2 separate regions of the Homo sapiens genome follow, and region 2 is linked to region 1. The links come from fine-mapping of genetic effects on gene expression. A gene starts in region 1. The other region holds a variant in brackets. All regions are shown on one strand. Distances are from middle to middle. Region 1 holds the start of MAP3K20 (mitogen-activated protein kinase kinase kinase 20). Region 2 overlaps MAP3K20 (mitogen-activated protein kinase kinase kinase 20).

Evidence for each region.
Region 2: its variant is fine-mapped to the expression of MAP3K20 in aorta (GTEx, PIP 0.97).

What each region holds. Positions count from the first base shown.
Region 1 is chr2:173,070,871-173,079,210 of GRCh38, reverse strand. MAP3K20 (mitogen-activated protein kinase kinase kinase 20) reads right to left here and starts at 3,365. Exons shown (of 20, transcript NM_016653.3): 1 at 3,209-3,365. RefSeq lists silencers at 2,801-3,540, 3,621-3,670.
Region 2 is chr2:173,135,560-173,143,899 of GRCh38, reverse strand. The region is part of intron 2 of MAP3K20 (mitogen-activated protein kinase kinase kinase 20); the gene reads right to left. Among named protein-coding and RNA genes, the nearest start is that of MAP3K20, 64 kb to the right of the region's middle. RefSeq lists an enhancer at 4,537-4,706. The variant A/TAAAA (reference allele first, on the strand shown) is at 3,897.

The DNA.
Region 1 (8,340 bases):
ACAACTGCCTATTCAGTATAGCAGCATGCTACATAGGTCTGTAGCCTAGGAGCAACGGACTATCTCACACAGCCTAGGTGTGTAGTAGGCTATAGCATCTAGGTTTGTGTAGGTGCACGCTGTGGTATTTACACAACTACAACATCACGTAACAACACAGTTCTCTCAGAACGTATCCCCATCATTAATGGACACATGACTGTACTTATCCTTAGGAAGCAGGTACTACTGTTCCTAACTTACATGAGTGAGAAAACTGAGGATCAGGGGTATGAAAGTAGCTCAAGCCAACTACCTTACAGGTGACACAACTTGTGTCAAATTCAGGCCTGACTCCAAAGTCATATCATTGTTTTCTACCATATCATGTCTTTTTGTTAATAACATTCTGCCTCCTCCTTCTAATTTGCCTTTTGTTTACCCTATTTAAACTATTTTCTTATTACAGTAATTACTGGATTGCTCACCATCCACCTAAAGTTCAATTTGAGGCTTTAATTTCCTATTACAATTGAAGACACTGGGGTTAGGGTGTCAAATGTGGGGCTGCTTTGTTCTCACAGATTCTTCTACTGTGCTGGGATTACTTAACAGCTATTAGGACGATGCTTCAGCATCCGTAGGAGGGTCTGACATAAAAGCACCCATGTATCAGTCGAATCAATCTAAGCTCTAGCATTCATAGTCCTCTTCCCTTACCAGGTACAATTTTCTGGTCACAGCTGGAACTCTGCTTATTTGTGTCTAGTGGGGCAAAGTTAATAGCTACCAAAAAACTAGCCTAAATCTTCCTTGCAGTAAGACCAAAAGGTGCCTTAACTGTTCCTACTACATTTAGATAGACAAGATACTCACCCTGTCAATCTGTCCTGGGTAGAATAAAATGGAAAACAAGTGATCTAAATTCATTTTTATTTCCAACATCTCAGGATACAGACATAGGGCTATCTTATTCCAAGAAGTATTATATCCCCACAAACATCTTTTTCCAGTTTAAACAAAAACAAAAACAAAACAAAAACAAAAAAACCACTGATTCTCTCCTCTCTTCTGAATCTACCACTTTCTAAAATAAACTGTCCATTTTGCTCTGTCACTCCACACTAATAGCTTCACCTTACATCTGACTTATTTTCATGAAAAGTTTTCAGTGTTTTCTCTGATGATTCGATTATTCACTCCACGCCCCCACAAACCTATTTATAATTTTGTAGCCCTATCAAAGTCAGTTTCACTGCTCATTCCAGATAGGCTCTGAGCCAATATATTGCCAATAACACTCACTCTTGTGCTAAGTTAAAATACACAGTGCAACTTGCCAAGTTTCCTTATTTGGCAAGAAGGCCCCTTAGTTCCCAAGATCTTTGACCATCCATTTTTAGATCCAAGTCCGAGTGTTTAATATTTGGATTTTTTTTTCTCTCTTTACTGTGTCCTTATATATTCCCTAAAAGATTAAGAAAAACGGATCAATCATCTATTTGCTTTTTTAGACAACGGAGAAAGTCCTTGCAATTGCATCATGGTCATTTACTCTGGAATTATTATCACTAAATTTTTTTATTTAAACAATATTTTGTAGTTAAAAAACTCCCCAAATAATCTCAAAAAGTTATAGTAGGAATTAAATTGTGATAGATTAAAATAAACAGTGCAGTGGTCCAAAAGACCATTTTTCTTTATCTTAATTCTGTTTTCCCAAACTAAATTCGTATTCATTTACAATCTCCTAAATCTCTCACTATAGTAGCAGGAATTTAAAACAAAGACTCTACAAATGACCATAACCATAATTAAAATGCAGCCATCACTTTTTTTTTTTTTTTTTTTTGGAAAATTGAAAAACAAGTGAAATTTCACTGTGGAGATAGGCCTACTACAAAGAGGACATTAACTAGCCTTGAATCACTTGTTTATTTTTGTCTTTAAACGTGTTTGGAGGTTTGGATCCACTAAATCCTAGCTGTTCATTTCAACGAAGGTCGAGGAAGCAAGAAGGCTCTTCCAAAACAGCTTCGGGGTTAAAGAAGGAGTACAGTTTTCAACAATCTTAAGTCAAACATCCTCAAATTCACTCTGTAAGACGATTCTCACACACCAGTATCGAGAGCTGCTTACTGTACCATACTTGGAATGGGCCCCTAAATTGTGTTGCTTTCATTATTACAGAAACTAACAAAAATAGTAATTAAGTTCCCCATAAACAGTACTTATGCGCGATCTCAAAGCGCATCAGAAACATAACATTTTCAGCGATCTAACAGAGATAACTTTTTAAAAAAATTTTTTAGGCAATCGGATGTCATCTAGCCAGTCCTGAATTAAAGTTTTCTGAAAGCTGTCATGGGCAAGCGAGGCCAGACGAGGCGACGGCCTGGGTAAGCACTTCTGGGCCTGGTGCAGGTCTGGGAGCCCACAAAAAGCCGCTGCCTGAGGGTCGCCAAAGGAGACATCCCCGGCTCCGGTGGGAGGAAAGGGGGAAGCCCGAGAGGGCGGGCGCTTCATGCTGCCCAAGCCCGGGGCAGGAAGGGCGGGGAGCGGTGGCTCTGGATACATTTACGCATGTTTTTAAAACTAATCTTTAGTGTTCATTGTTCCTGCTGGTTATTCGCATGGCCTAATTGTGTGAGGAAAACAGAATGAAGGAAAATGGATGGGAAGCAACACCGCTCGCGGTCGAGTTCTTAGAAAAGCAGAAGTTCGTCGTCCCTCCTCGCACGCACAGCGAGTGCTGGGAAGTGGCCTGCACCCTACCCTGATTTGGGGGCCTCGCGGTTCGCCTCCCGACAGTGCCCCAGTCACCCGCTGCTTGGCCGGCTCTGCTGCTCGCGGAGCCCCTGCCCGTGCCGCACGCCCGGGACCGCGAAAGCCGGGGCCGCTCCGGCCTGCGCCCGCGCCTCCAGGCGCCAACTTCTCCATGGGACCGGCCCGAACTCTCCCGAACCGCACTTGGCGGCGCCGCGGCCAAGGTCCCGCGAGGACTTCCCGGGCGCCGCGAACGCTCGCTCGCTCGCCCGCCCGCTCGCTCCGGCCGCCGCCGCCGGGCGGGCCCTGGGTCGGGGAGGGGAGCCCCGAGGAGCCTCCCGAGGCCGCCTAGACTCCCGGGCTCCGGCGGAGCCTCGGCCCCGAGACGCAGGGACGACTCGCGAGCGCGGCGGGCCTCGCCCCCTCCCTCCCCGCCCTCCGCGGGCTCCAGCCTGACCCCTACCTGGCTCCCGGGCGGGGCGTGAGCAGCAGCCGGGGGCGCGGAGGCCCCGCGCGCGACGAGGGCGGCGGGGGTTGGGACGACAGCGGCCCGCGCGGCTCCCACGTTTCCGCTGCAGTTAGGAGTTGAACATTCCGCCTCTCTGCACGGCGCCAATGAGGAAGACAGTCACGGCAACAGCACCACCTACCTCCCGGCGCGAAACGGCTGGGCCGCCCTCCCCTCACACGCGCGGGCGAGCGGGGCGTGGGGAAGGCGCTCGGGCCTCCCTGGCCTGCGCCCGGGGGGCACCATCCGCCCCGCGCCCCGGCACCCGCCGAGGCCCCCAGACACACCTGCCTTGCTGTGGGGGGAGGGCCGTGGGGGTGTTCCCCCTCGCCCCCAGCACCTTAACTCATCTTTTTGACAAATTAACACCACCTGCTACTCCTTCAACTCAGTCTTCAACAAACAGGCGCTGGGGACGCAAAGAAATAGAGGCTGTTTTGTGCCCCGCAAGAGTTAATTCTCTAGTTGGGAAAGGCACAAACGTAGAGATTTCTGGGAACATAGGTCTGAAGGCTGCCTCTCTAGAAAGATCAGTAGGTACCTCTGGAATTTTGAGGAGGGGCCGTGGTCTGCTGCTCTAGTTGCTAATTTTAACAGAGCAGAATTCAGAAGAGGAGCCAGAGTCCGTTACAGGCCTAAGCCAAAGGTGGAGGTGGGCGTTGGGAAGAAAAGAAATTTCTGATTGGGGAGGATGGTTCTGTGAAGGAAAAGTGAGAGGAGGTTGCAAGGGCATGGGCAACATTATTCAGGATTTTGAATTTGAATTTTATTATCCATGGACACTGGGAGCTGTGAAAAATTAGAATCAAAGGGGTGAAATGGGGGTTTGTGATTCTGTTTAAATGGTAATTTTGAGAGAGTAGTCCACAGTAGTTGTAGGTTGGGTTGCTAGGATGGAACCAGGATGAGTAGTAGATATTGTCACCACCCGGTTGTGGGATCATGAGGACCTGAGTTAGGATGTAGGAAATGGAATTAAAAAGAAGAAATGGGCTGGGCATGGTACCTGTAATCCCAGCACTTTGGGAGGCCAAGCTGAGAGGATTGCTTGAGACCTGGCTGGGTAACACAGTGAGACCTCATCTCCAAAAAAATCAGAAAATTAGCCTGATGTGGTGGCATACATCTATAGTCCCAGCTACTCGGGAGGCTGAGGTGGGAGAATCGCTTGAGCTGGGGAAGTCGAGGCTAAAGTGAACCACAGTCGCGCCACTGCACTCCAGCCTGGATGAAAGTGAGACTCTGTCTCAAAAAAAAAAAAAAAAAAAAAAAAAAAAAAAAAAGAAGAAATGGAATTGAGAGAAATATTAAACGTTTCAGCAAGAGGCCACAGAAATTGGTAACCCACAAGATTTAGAAGAGAAGAAGAAGAGAGATGATGCCAAGATCTCAGACCTGGATGACTGGAAGAATGATGGTGTCATTGACAAAAATAGGAATACGTGAAAGGGAAGCTGGCTTCATGTTGAGTTTGAGGTCATAGGAGTAAAAACAGGTAGAGATGCAGCAACTGAAATATGAAACTGAAATTCAGGAAAGAGGTCAAGAGTGAAATAGAAAATTTGTAAGTCATTCAATAGGTTAAAGATATGAAAGTTGAGGGATGAATGAGTAGAGGTTAAAAAACAATTTATTAGTCTGATTAATTTGCCCTTTGATAAGGACTGGAGATTTTAGCATTAATAAATTTTATTTTGGTAACTGAGAAATTAGAATTGATGAAAATTGCCATGCTAAAAAAATGTATAATGCAGGTCTAATAAAATAATTCAAATAATTCCATCCTATCCATTCAAGGAAAAACTAAGGCTCTTTAGCATAGACCCCAGGCATAGGAAGACTCCAGTCATTTTACCTTACCTTCAGAGGCACTTGTTTGTTTTGGAAAGGACCCTAGACTGAGAGTCAGAGAACCTGACTTCTGGTCTTAGAGCTACCAGTTATCAGCTAGAGTGCTTTGCAGGATAGGCCACAGTTTCCTCCTCTGTAAAATAAGAGGGACTAATTAGAAGTTAGTTGCAGGTTCCAGCTTTAAAACCATGAATGTATTGCTTTAAATTTGGAACACATGGCTTAAGAGCATCAATATTTTTAGCCACATTGCCCTTGCTTCCCATCCCTTTGCCTTCATTCTGTTTTCCTCACATAATTAGGCCAAGAGAATAACCAGCAGGAACAATGAACACTAAAGATTAGTTTCAGAAACATGCTTAAATGATAATCTAGTAGACATTTTCTTGTCTTCCCAAATAGGTTGCAAGCCCTTTGAGGTCACATCTTATATTGTGTGGTATCTGCATATGTATTGTCCATAGCTGAAATAAATATATAATGATTGTATGATAAACTGATTGCCTCAAGTTTGGTTTTTCTTTTGTCAAGCTGCCTGTTTCCTATTGATTATACTGATCTTTTTAGGCCCCAGACCTAATAAATATGGTCTAGTATGTATTCTCAACACCGACTGCTTTTTTGAACTTTCAAATCTTTTTTGAATTGGTTAATGCTCACCAGGCAGAGTTTAGGTTTACCCGTGTGAAAAGCAATAACAAAAGAGACCTAGTCAAACTTCTCTTATCAAACCTGCCTATTCCTTTACTTCAAATGTTTCCACACTAAAAATAGATGTACTCTTAGCAGTGAGGTGGCTTGGAAGTCCTTAGCACCCTCTTATATCCAAGAACATTCTCCAAAATAAACATGCAATCTAAGTTGAAAAATATAAATATAGCTTAAGGAAAAACTTTCCTATCCCCCTATTCAATGGGACTGTTTCTTCTAAGCCCCTCTTCAAATAGATATTCTGAAACTGCCACTAGCTATCAGTGGATGAGAAAAGTGCAGACATAAATTCTACGAATGGCAGAAGGAATGGCAACTTAAAAGGAAGAAAGCAGTCTTTATCCTCCCCTCCTCTTATAGTGGTAAGAGTTATGGCACAAGCTGGCACCCAGGGGCATTTTCTCTAGCCGTCTTAGTTTTCCATCTTAACTTGTGAATAGTCTATGCCTGGATCATAGCTAAGAATTACCCAACTTTTATGCAAAGACCAAGGCTTTACCTCCTGTACAACTCTGAATCCCTGGGAAATTAAGGTATATAATCAAACATCCTTTAAGTCATTTAACCATTGCCTTAAAATCATAAATGAAGCCCAGATCATTGTTTGAGTTTAGTGTTTACATCTAACTTGAGGATCAAAGAGATTTACAGGAATATGCAGGATATCGAGCTTATTTAGGCACCCTGGGACATGAAAGGAGCGGTGTGGCAAGAAGACATATTGAAGACTTTTACAAAATGTATTCAACAGGCATTTACTGACTGCCAGGCACTGTGCAGAGCTTTATGATTATAGCAGTGAACAAGCATGGTCCCCTCTCTCACAGAGTTTTCGGAGTGCAATGGAAGAGCCAGCAAAGACACGAGCAATTACACTATGGTATGCTCTTAAAGGGGCAAAGATTGGGGCTTACAGCAGGGTACCTAGCATAGTTTTGAGAGGTCAATGAAGGCTTCTAAATCAAAGAAGCTCGAAGTTAATACAAGAAGAAATGAAGAGGATTTGCTGGACAAAAAGGAGGGAAAGATATTCCAGGCAAAGGAAACAAGTGCAATGGCCTGAGAGCATTTAGCAAGTTCAAAGAATAAGTTCTTCATGTATCTGAGTAAAGACATCACCAGCAGGGAGTAATAGCCCTCATAGTAGTGGTAACAGTAATAGCAGAAGCAATAATAATAATAGATGGTTAATATTTACTGAACAGTCATACGCCATGCACTGAATTAAGAGTTTTACACAGACGTCTTCCCATTTAGTCTTCACAATAACCCTAGCAGGTAGTTTTAAGTCATCATCCCATGCTATGGGGCCAGAAAAAGTCTTGGAAAAGTTGGGCAACTTGCCTTCCCTCAGGGAGCAAAAGGTAGACTTTAGGCTTGTTTTTTCAAATCAAGCAGTTCTCAAACTTTTTGGTCTCAGGACTCCGTTACACTCTAAAAAAGTCATTGAGGATGCCAAATAGCTTTTAAGTGAGTCATATCTATCAAATTTATTATATTAGAAATTAAAGCTGGGCACGGCGGCTCACGGCTGTAATCTCAGCACTTTGGGAGGCTGAGGCAGGTTGATCACAAGGTCAGGAGTTCGAGACCAGCCTGGCCAACATGGTGAAACCCCGTCTCTACTAAAAATACAAAAATTAGCTGGGCCTGGTGGCAGGTGCCTGTAATCCCAGCTACTCGGGAGGCTGAAGCAGGAGAATTGCTTGAAGCAGGACTTGGGAGGCAGAGGTTGCAATGAACTGAGATGGTGCCACTGCACGCCAGCCTGGGCTACAGGGCAAGACTCCGTCTCAAAAAAAAAAAAAATTAGAAATTAATCCATTTAAAAATAATAAGCCAATAAGCCTATCTATGTTAACATAAATAACATTTTAGTGAAAAATAACCATTGCCCCAGATTTTTAAAAACTGAAAGAATACCATTGTTTTACATTTTTGCAAATCTCTTTAACGTTTAGCTTAGTAGACAAAAGTTGGATTCTAATATCTGCTTCTGAATTTAATCTATTCCAATATCATACTACATATATCCTCTGGGAAATTCCACTGTACACTCATGAGAGAGTGTCAATATTTTTATGAAGAGTTCTGACCTTGCAAACCCCCCAAAGGGTCCCCAGGCTGCATTTTGAGAACTGATATTTTAGAGTCTGAAGGGAGTTGGTTGCCTTGTTCTCTGCTTCAAGACGCAGCGTAACAGGGCAGCTGCATCAAGCAGGGAAGAGAGCACTTTGCTAAATGGCAGAAAATCTGGGATGTGGTGCCAGCCCTGTCCTTAAACAACTGTCCCCTCCTCGGGACCATACTACCTGATGGTCATGTGGGATGATAAAGTCCTACATATCTGAGTCTTGAGTCCTAGTCACTGCTCATTCTTTACTATTGTTTGCCATGCTACTTTTCTTTAAAATGCTATATCTAAACTTTGACTGAATCATAACTGAGTTTGTCACATCCATTCAGCATTGAGCCTTCTATTCTTTTTTTTTGAGACAGAGTCTCACTCTGTCACCCAGGCTGAA
Region 2 (8,340 bases), 65 kb before region 1:
ATAATTTTTTTTTACATTGTCTTTAAAATCTTTGCTGCTAGTATATAGAAATATAATAAACTTGTTTCCTGTAACTTTGTTAAATAAATTGATCAGTCCTAGTATTTGTTTTGTAGATTTTTAAAAAATTTTTTATGTAAACAATCATTTAATCTGCAAATAAAGACAGTTTTACTTCTTCCTCTCCAATCTTAATGCCTTTTGTTTCTTTCTCTTGTCTTACTGCACTGACCAGGATCTCTACAGAACAGTGAACAGAAATCATGAGAGCAGATATCCTTGTCTTACTCCTAATCTTAGGGAGAAAAACATTCAATATTTCCCCGTTGAGTTAAAATGTTAGGTGTAGGTTTTTTGGCAGATCCCTTTAAAAGACTGAAAATTATAAAAACTTATTTTATGATCTATCCTGGAGAACACTCCATGTGCACCTGAAGATAATGTATATTTTGTAGTTGTTAAGTATAATGTCTCAGTTGCTTAGGGGGGGATATTTAAAATTTACAAATGTAATTGTGAATTTGTCTATTTCTTTTTCTAGTTCTATCAGTTTTGCTTCATGTATTTTGAAGCTCTGTTATTAGGATAAATATTCATTTATGATTGTTATATCTTTTAAGAAACTGACTTTTTAAATCATCATTATTAAATCATTTTATCTTTAGTAATACTTTTGGTTCCTGAAGTCCATACTGTGTCTGATATTAATAGAGCCACTACACCTTTATTATGCTTTCTATTTGCATACCCCTCTTTTCCCATTTCATGTTTTTACTTTCAACAGATCTGTGTCTTATATTTAAAATACACCTCTTGTAGATAGCATATAGTTGGGTCTTGTTTTATTTTTTTGTTTTTTGTTTGTTTCTTTTTGAGACAGGTTCTAGCTCTGCTGTCCAGGCTGGAGTGCGATGGTGTGATCACAGCTCACTGCAGCCTTGAACTCCTGGGCTCAAGTGATCCTCCTGCCCTGGCCTCCCAAATTGCTGGGATTAGAGGTGTGAGCCACTGTGCCTGGCTGGATCTTGCTTTTTCATCCAGCCTAGCAATCTCTGCCATTTAATTGGGGTGCTTAATTCATTTATACTTAATGTAATTATGTATATTACTGGGCTTAAGTTTACTATCTTGGTTTTTAAAAATTCGTTCTATTTGTTTTTTGTTCCCCTGTTTTTCCTTTCCTGTCTTTGTTTTAACAATTTTTTTCTTAGTATATCATTTTCATTCATTCATTGGCTTTTTAGCTATACCTCTTTTGTTTTGTTTTTTTGTGGGGGTAGGTAGTGGTTGCTCTAAGAATTCAACATATATTTTTGCCACAGTCTACTTAGATTTAATTTTGTGCTACACATAAAATGTAAGATGCTTGCTCACTTCCCCATCCTTTGTGTCATTGTGATATATATATACTACTTTTTTTTTTTTTTTGAGACGGAGTCTCGCTCTGTTGCCCAGGCTGGAGTGCAGTGGCACGATCTCAGCTCACTGCAACCTCCACCTCCTGGGTTCATGCCATTCTCCTGCCTCAGCTTCTTGGGTAGGTGGGACTACAGGCACCCACCACCACGCCGGGCTTATTTTTGGTATTTTTAGTAGAGTCAGGGTTTTACCATGTTAGCCAGGATGGTCTCGATCTCCTGACCTCATGATCCACCCGCCTCGGCCTCCCAAAGTGCTGGGATATAGGCGTGAGCCACTACGCCCAGCCATGTGTTATATATTTTAACGTACATACATTATACAACCCATAATATAACACTGCAACTTTCCTTTTAGCTGTTGTCTTTTGAAGAAATTAAAAGAATTTTTAAAATGATCATTTGTATTTACCCTAATATTAACCATAACTAAATCTGCTGGCAATAAATTATCTCAGCTTTCATTTATCTAAAAATGTCTATTTCATCTTCAGTTTTGAAGACTATTTTAAGTGGGTATTGATCTCTAAAATGGCAGTTATCTTTTTTCTTTTGGCATATTACAGGTCATTCCACTGTCATTTGGCCTCCATTGTTTCTAGTGAGAAGTAACTGGTATTGCTTCCTTTATGTAATGTGTCTTTTTTTTCTGGCTGTTTTTGACATTTCTCTTTTCATCAATGATTTTTAGCAGTTTAACTATGATGTGACTGAGTGTGGTGTTTCTGGTTTTCATTTTTAATTTATCCTGCTTGGGGTTTTCTGAGCTTGCTGGAACTGTAAGTGTATGGTTTTCATCAAAGTTGGGGCACTTGAAGTCATCATTTCTTCACATATTTTTCTATCCATCCCCTCTCTCTCTCTCCTTTCTTTCTGTGATTCCATTAATGTATATTAGATTGACATTGTCTCATGTGTAACTGCTCAATTTTTAAAATTTTTTTTGTTTGGTCTTGAGATTTGATAAATTATATTAATCTGTCTTCACATATACTGACCTTTTCTTTTGCCTTCCTCAATCTGCTGTTAAGCCCCATCAGTACAATTTACATTTAAAGAGACTGTAGTTTTACAGTTCTAGAATTTTTAGTTTCCATCTTCCTGCTGAATTACTGATTCTGCTCTCTCATTCTAACCATGGTTTCCTTTAAGTTCTTGAACATGTTTATAAAAGCTGCTTTGTAGTCTTTTGTCTGCTAATTACAACTTCACATGTCTAATATGTTTTACTTCACATGTCTAGTTTTTCTAATAATACTACACGAGAATTTAGTATAAAAAGTAAATGTGAAGTAAACAAATATTATTTAAATACAAAATAAAAAAGTTATTAAAAGGAATGTGGTAGCTCTACGTGTAGTCACATAAAAAAGTGCCTCAGTATACTAAGTTCAAAAAGTAAGTTGCGAGGTGATTTACAACTTACACATTGGGACACGTTTTTATGATATATATACATATAAAATATCATAATCTAGTTTTTTTAAGTTTTTACTTTGAGATAATTATAGATACACATGCAATTATAAGAAATAATACAGAGAGAACCTATATATTTTTCAACCAGTTTCTCCCAATAGAAATCGACATTTACACAATCCACCAACTTTATTCAGATTTCACCAGTTTTATATGCACTCGTGTGTGTGTGTGTATATGTTTAGTTCCGCATAATTTTGTCATACACGTACATTCAAGTGATTCCTACCACAGTCAAGATACAGGAAAATTTCATCACAAGGTTCCCTCATGCCACCCTCTTCACATGATCCATTTTTATGGGGGGAATAGTATTAGCGATAGTTATAAATACAGAGAAAAAAATACATCTGGGCTGGATGCAGTGGCTCACACCTGTAATCCCAGCACTTTGGGAGGCCAAAGCGGGTGGATCACCTGAGGTTGGGAGTTCGAGAACAACCTGACCAAAATAGAGAAACCCCATCTCTACTAAAAATTCAAAATTAGCCGGGTGTGGTGGTGCATGCCTCTAATCCCAGCTACTTGGGAGGCTGAGGCAGAAGAATCACTTGAATTCAGGAGGCAGAGAGGTTGCGGTGAGCTGAGATTGTGCCCCTGCATACCAGCCTGGACAACAAGAGTGAAACTCCATCTCAAAAAAAAAATCTGGAAAGTTACTCACAAACTAATGATTTTAAAGTATAGGATTGTGGCTGGGCGTGGTGGCTCATGCCTGTAATCCCAGCACTTTGGGAGGCTGAGGTGGGTGGATCACGAGGTCATGAGTTTGAGACCAGCCTGGCCAACATGGCAAAATCCCATCTCTACTAAAAATACAAAAATTAGCTAGGCATGGTGGCACGCGCCTGTAATTCCAGCTACTCGGGAGGCTGAGGCAGGGGAATCGCTTGAACCCGGGAGGCGGAGGTTGCAGTGAGCTGAGATTGCGCCATTGCACTCCTGCCTGGGCAACAAGAGTGAAACTCCATCTAATAAATAAATAAATAAATAAATAAA[A/TAAAA]TTAAGTATAGGATTGCAGGGAAGGAAAACTGCTTTTTTACTTTGCATACTGCTGAAATTTCTTGTTTTACACTGAACATGTATTACTTTTTTAACATAAAAATTTAAAATCTAGGAAGTAAATATAACATGGAAATATGTGGGTGTAAGTATAGCAGGGTCACAGTAAACAAATGGCTATGAATAGAAACTTTAAAAAGAAACATGATACTGAGTGTGTAAAATAAAATATTTAGGAATCTACTTTTCGTTTACTAACTATATCCATATTGGTTCCTTTACTTAAGTAAGCACTGGTCATTTTTTATTTTTGGAAGAGATTCCACCAAGCAAGAAAAAGAACTTAAAAATTCACAGAAAACTAAAAAGCTAAAATAAATGAAGTTATTTTACTTATAAGTAAGATAACAATCAGGGGGAAAGTAGGCACCTAATAAATGTCATTTTGTAAGAGTTTTCTGAAGAGTATAATTTTAATGTTGTTTTTAAAATCATATTACAGCATTACATTGATCCTTTTATCCTTGGTCCAAACAAGCACTGTTAGACAGCATATGGTATAGACTCAGAATAACTCAGAGAAGAACTTTCTAATAGTCAGTTTCCCAAAGATAAAAGGGACTGGCCCAGGAGGCTACTGAGTTCTCCTTCATAAGCAATCAGAATTCAAACAGGAGGTAAATGCCCATTTGTGGCAGTAATGTTTCGGAGGACATTAAGGCATCGGAAATATGGTCAATTAAAGTCCTTTCCAAAGCTGAGATTCTATTATGAGTAGAGCACACACTGGGTCCAAAGCCAGAAAAACCTCAGATTAAGCACTGTACTTCTCCAGTGTGCTTCTGGGAATCATACACACTTGCTTCATCATTTGCAAGGAAATAATGTAAGTAACAGTGCTTTACAAATGGCAAAGCACTGAGTAATATTATATACTATCATTTGAGGATACCAAGTTCAAACGTTAACAAAAGTTACTTAAGCCAGCCATTAAGCAGAACTTCTGAATGGTGAGTATGATTGAACCCACTTCCAGACAGCCTGTGGACTTTTAAAAACAGATACAGAATTCGCAGTGTCTGAAATGACTTAGCTACAATCTTGATCTAGAACAGCAATTCATGTGGTACTATGGCCCTAGCTGATAGAAGTACCAGATGAAGAAGGAAAACAAAATGACCTTTTGGTGCTAATGTTAAAGTGTTATCAAATAAGTGGCTATCATTCAGGAATATCAAACCTTCTCTCTTGTCACAAGCATCCAGTAGGCAGTTGAGTATCATTTAAAAAGCAACAGACACAGAGGGAACCTAACAGGGTGTAAGAGCTCCAAACCAGCAAACCAAAGACCTGGGCCCTTGGACTGAATCTGTTGCTACTGAACATCACCTATCTGAACTTCAAATTACTGATTGTTAAAATGAGGGCTTGGGGCTGTTGGACTAAAATAGCTATTAAAATTTCAGTTTGTGTATTGTATTCGATTTCTAAGAGAACAGAACTTTTCACAATTATGTGAAAACCCACCTGTTAAGCAAAAAACCTACACTACAGTGTCAATCCTTCATCATCTTTCAAATCTTCCCCATATTACAATGCTATGACTGTGTACAAAATATCCAAACCTTAACACATCCATAATTAGGAGTTCAAAACACACAAAATAGAAAAAGTGCATATTTCATAATCATGGACACTTTCAGATTTTAAACATCCCTTTAAAATCACAAGTATTTGCCAGGCACGGTAGCTCACGCCTATAATCCCAGCACTTTGGGAGGCCGAGGCGGGCGAAACACGAGGTCAGGAATTCAAGATCACTTTGGCTAACATAATGAAACCCCGTCTCTACTGAAAATACAAAAAAAATTAGCTGGGTTGGGTGGCGGGCGCCTGTAGTCCCAGCTACTTGGGAAGCTGAGGCAGGAGAATTGCTTGAACCTGTGAGGCGGAGGTTGCAGTGAGCCGAGATCACGCCACTGCACACTCCAGTCTAGGCGACACAGCAAGATCCTGTCTCAAAAAAGAACAAAAAATCACAAATATTTATTAATCTACGTGTCTTTTCAAATAAGCTACTTACCTGGAATAAATGAGGATGGTTAAAGTAGAAAGAAATTGCTAGGTAATTGTTCAAGTAGATTTTTGTGGCTTGTATGGTTGAGGATCACTTTTACTTTCTGTTACTTAAATGTTGATGCCCACGTGTCAACAGCACTAGTATTAGGAAATTTTATGTGGGTTACAATTAAAGCCAGTACTTTAAAAACTGTAAAAATAAAATTTCCTTCCATTTCTGCTCATAGATTCCCTTTTCTTTTTTGGGACACACAGATTCTCAAAAGAATATTTTATAAACTACAATAAGAGCAACATACCTATTCACAGGAAAAAGGAAAAAAAGAGAGGGAGAGAAAAGAGACAAAATAAAACATGCACACTTCTTACTCATATGTAATTACATACTAGACAATTTCTCTTACTTTAAAATTACTCAACCAGAAAAAAAAAAATCTTCTCAAGCTGACATTTAAATTAAAATGGATGCTTCTGTCTTCTGCATTCATACTTATACTTGCCTTCCCAAACAGAGAACATAGGGTATTTATAATTCTCTTCTGTACACATCTACACTACACCGTATCTCTCAGTAACAAGGTGACTACCAAGGCACAAAAGATCTAATAAGCCATAATCACTATTATTCTTTAGTCCAGGTGTTTTGGCAGATTCCTAGTCTAGATCCTGACAGTAAATGGGGAATTTTGCATATATAAATTTTAAGGTAAGTCATTGTGACATTTAACCATTTTTAAACAGATTAAAGAGCTTAATCAAATCTAACGCTTTAACACTCGCCAGCTACAAACACACAGGAAAGCATGTTTTCCCACGTAAAGTTCACAAACACAGCCATCAATCCTTTTTAGGTCAGGAGAGAAATTGAGAAGACCAATCTTCCAAAAATTTTCATCGCTACTCTCCCTAAAAAGTGGTGCTTCTTGCAAGAAAAGGATAGAACAAAGATCTTAATGTTGCAGGTTTGAAAGACAACCACATCAAAACCAGGTATAGTGGTCCTAACCTAAGCAGCTGGCAAACTGCAGGATGGATGTGGGCACTCTTCTGCCTAATAAAATCTGAATCAAACACTTTGCATCTGATTCTCTATGTGAGCTTTTATGCAAACTTCTAAAGTGCAAGGAATCCTGGGGTGGAAGAGCTATTCTGAGAGATTTCACATAGTTCATGTAATTAGGGAAACCACTTCCTTTGATTGTGAGTGTTCAAAACAGCTGAATTTCTCCTATCAAAGGCACTCTGTGATTTGGGTCACCTCTTTTACGTTCTCTTTCATGTTCCTCAGGATGAGAGGTGAAGCCGGAGAGCACATTATTTAGGGGAAAAAAGATCTTGCTTTTTGTTTTAGGGATTGAACTTGCACTATTCAAAAGATTGTCATTTAGAATCTTCCTTTCTTTCTCACCCTCTGCTTCTTTCCTTCTCTGTCGAGGCTCTTCAGGCACTGCAGAGAACACAATCCAAAATGCCAATTTAAAGCTGATGGAAAACTGTCAGATTGTGTGTAAAAGAATTCTAATTTTCATGTTTGGGTTTAAAACATAATTAGAGTTGTAATCTGCAGGCTCTTGATCTCCATATTATGCATTTTCTGTTATGACAGTGACTAAGTCAAAAAGAGGGAAAGAAACATGAACGAACAGGAAAAAGGAGCCCCACACCCCAAAAATCACATTCCTCCGTGCCATCAGCAAATGCTGTAAAAAGAAACTGCCACTCTATTCTTTCCCTATATTCCTGGGGTATCCTTTTTCCCTAAAAGTGGAACACAGGCTATTCAACAAGGTGGCACATGCTGCTTTTGTTACAGCTAATTTTAGCATTGATGTTGTTAAGGTATTCAGTACAACTTATTCTACAACACCTTGGTCAGTGTAGCACACAGGTTTGTCAATGAATATCTAAACTAAAAAGCAGTGAAAAATAATTCACTATTTACCAACCACTTAGATGCTCACATTTCTACTGAGTGTTTAAAGCAAGTCTAATAATCTATATGCTACAATCCCTAAGATTTTAGTTAATTTAAATTCAGTTAATTAAAATTATACATGGTTAATAAAAACTGGTGATACTAAGTTGTCACTCATATCAAGGAAAAGGGTTTTGAAGCATATGAAAAAATGTGATAAAATTGTCTAGAGTGATAATGATATCTCCTGCATTCATTATATTTGACATTTACAATTCAGAGAAATATAACTGGGCAGAAATTATCCCCATTTTATAAGTGCAGAAACCTAGTCCCAGAGAGGCTGGCTGATTTCCCAAACAGCAAAGGAGGAAAAGATCTAAAACTTTAAACACAGAAGAATAGGGTATGATCTCCTTCATTCAGGATTCTAAAATCTTCCCATCACAG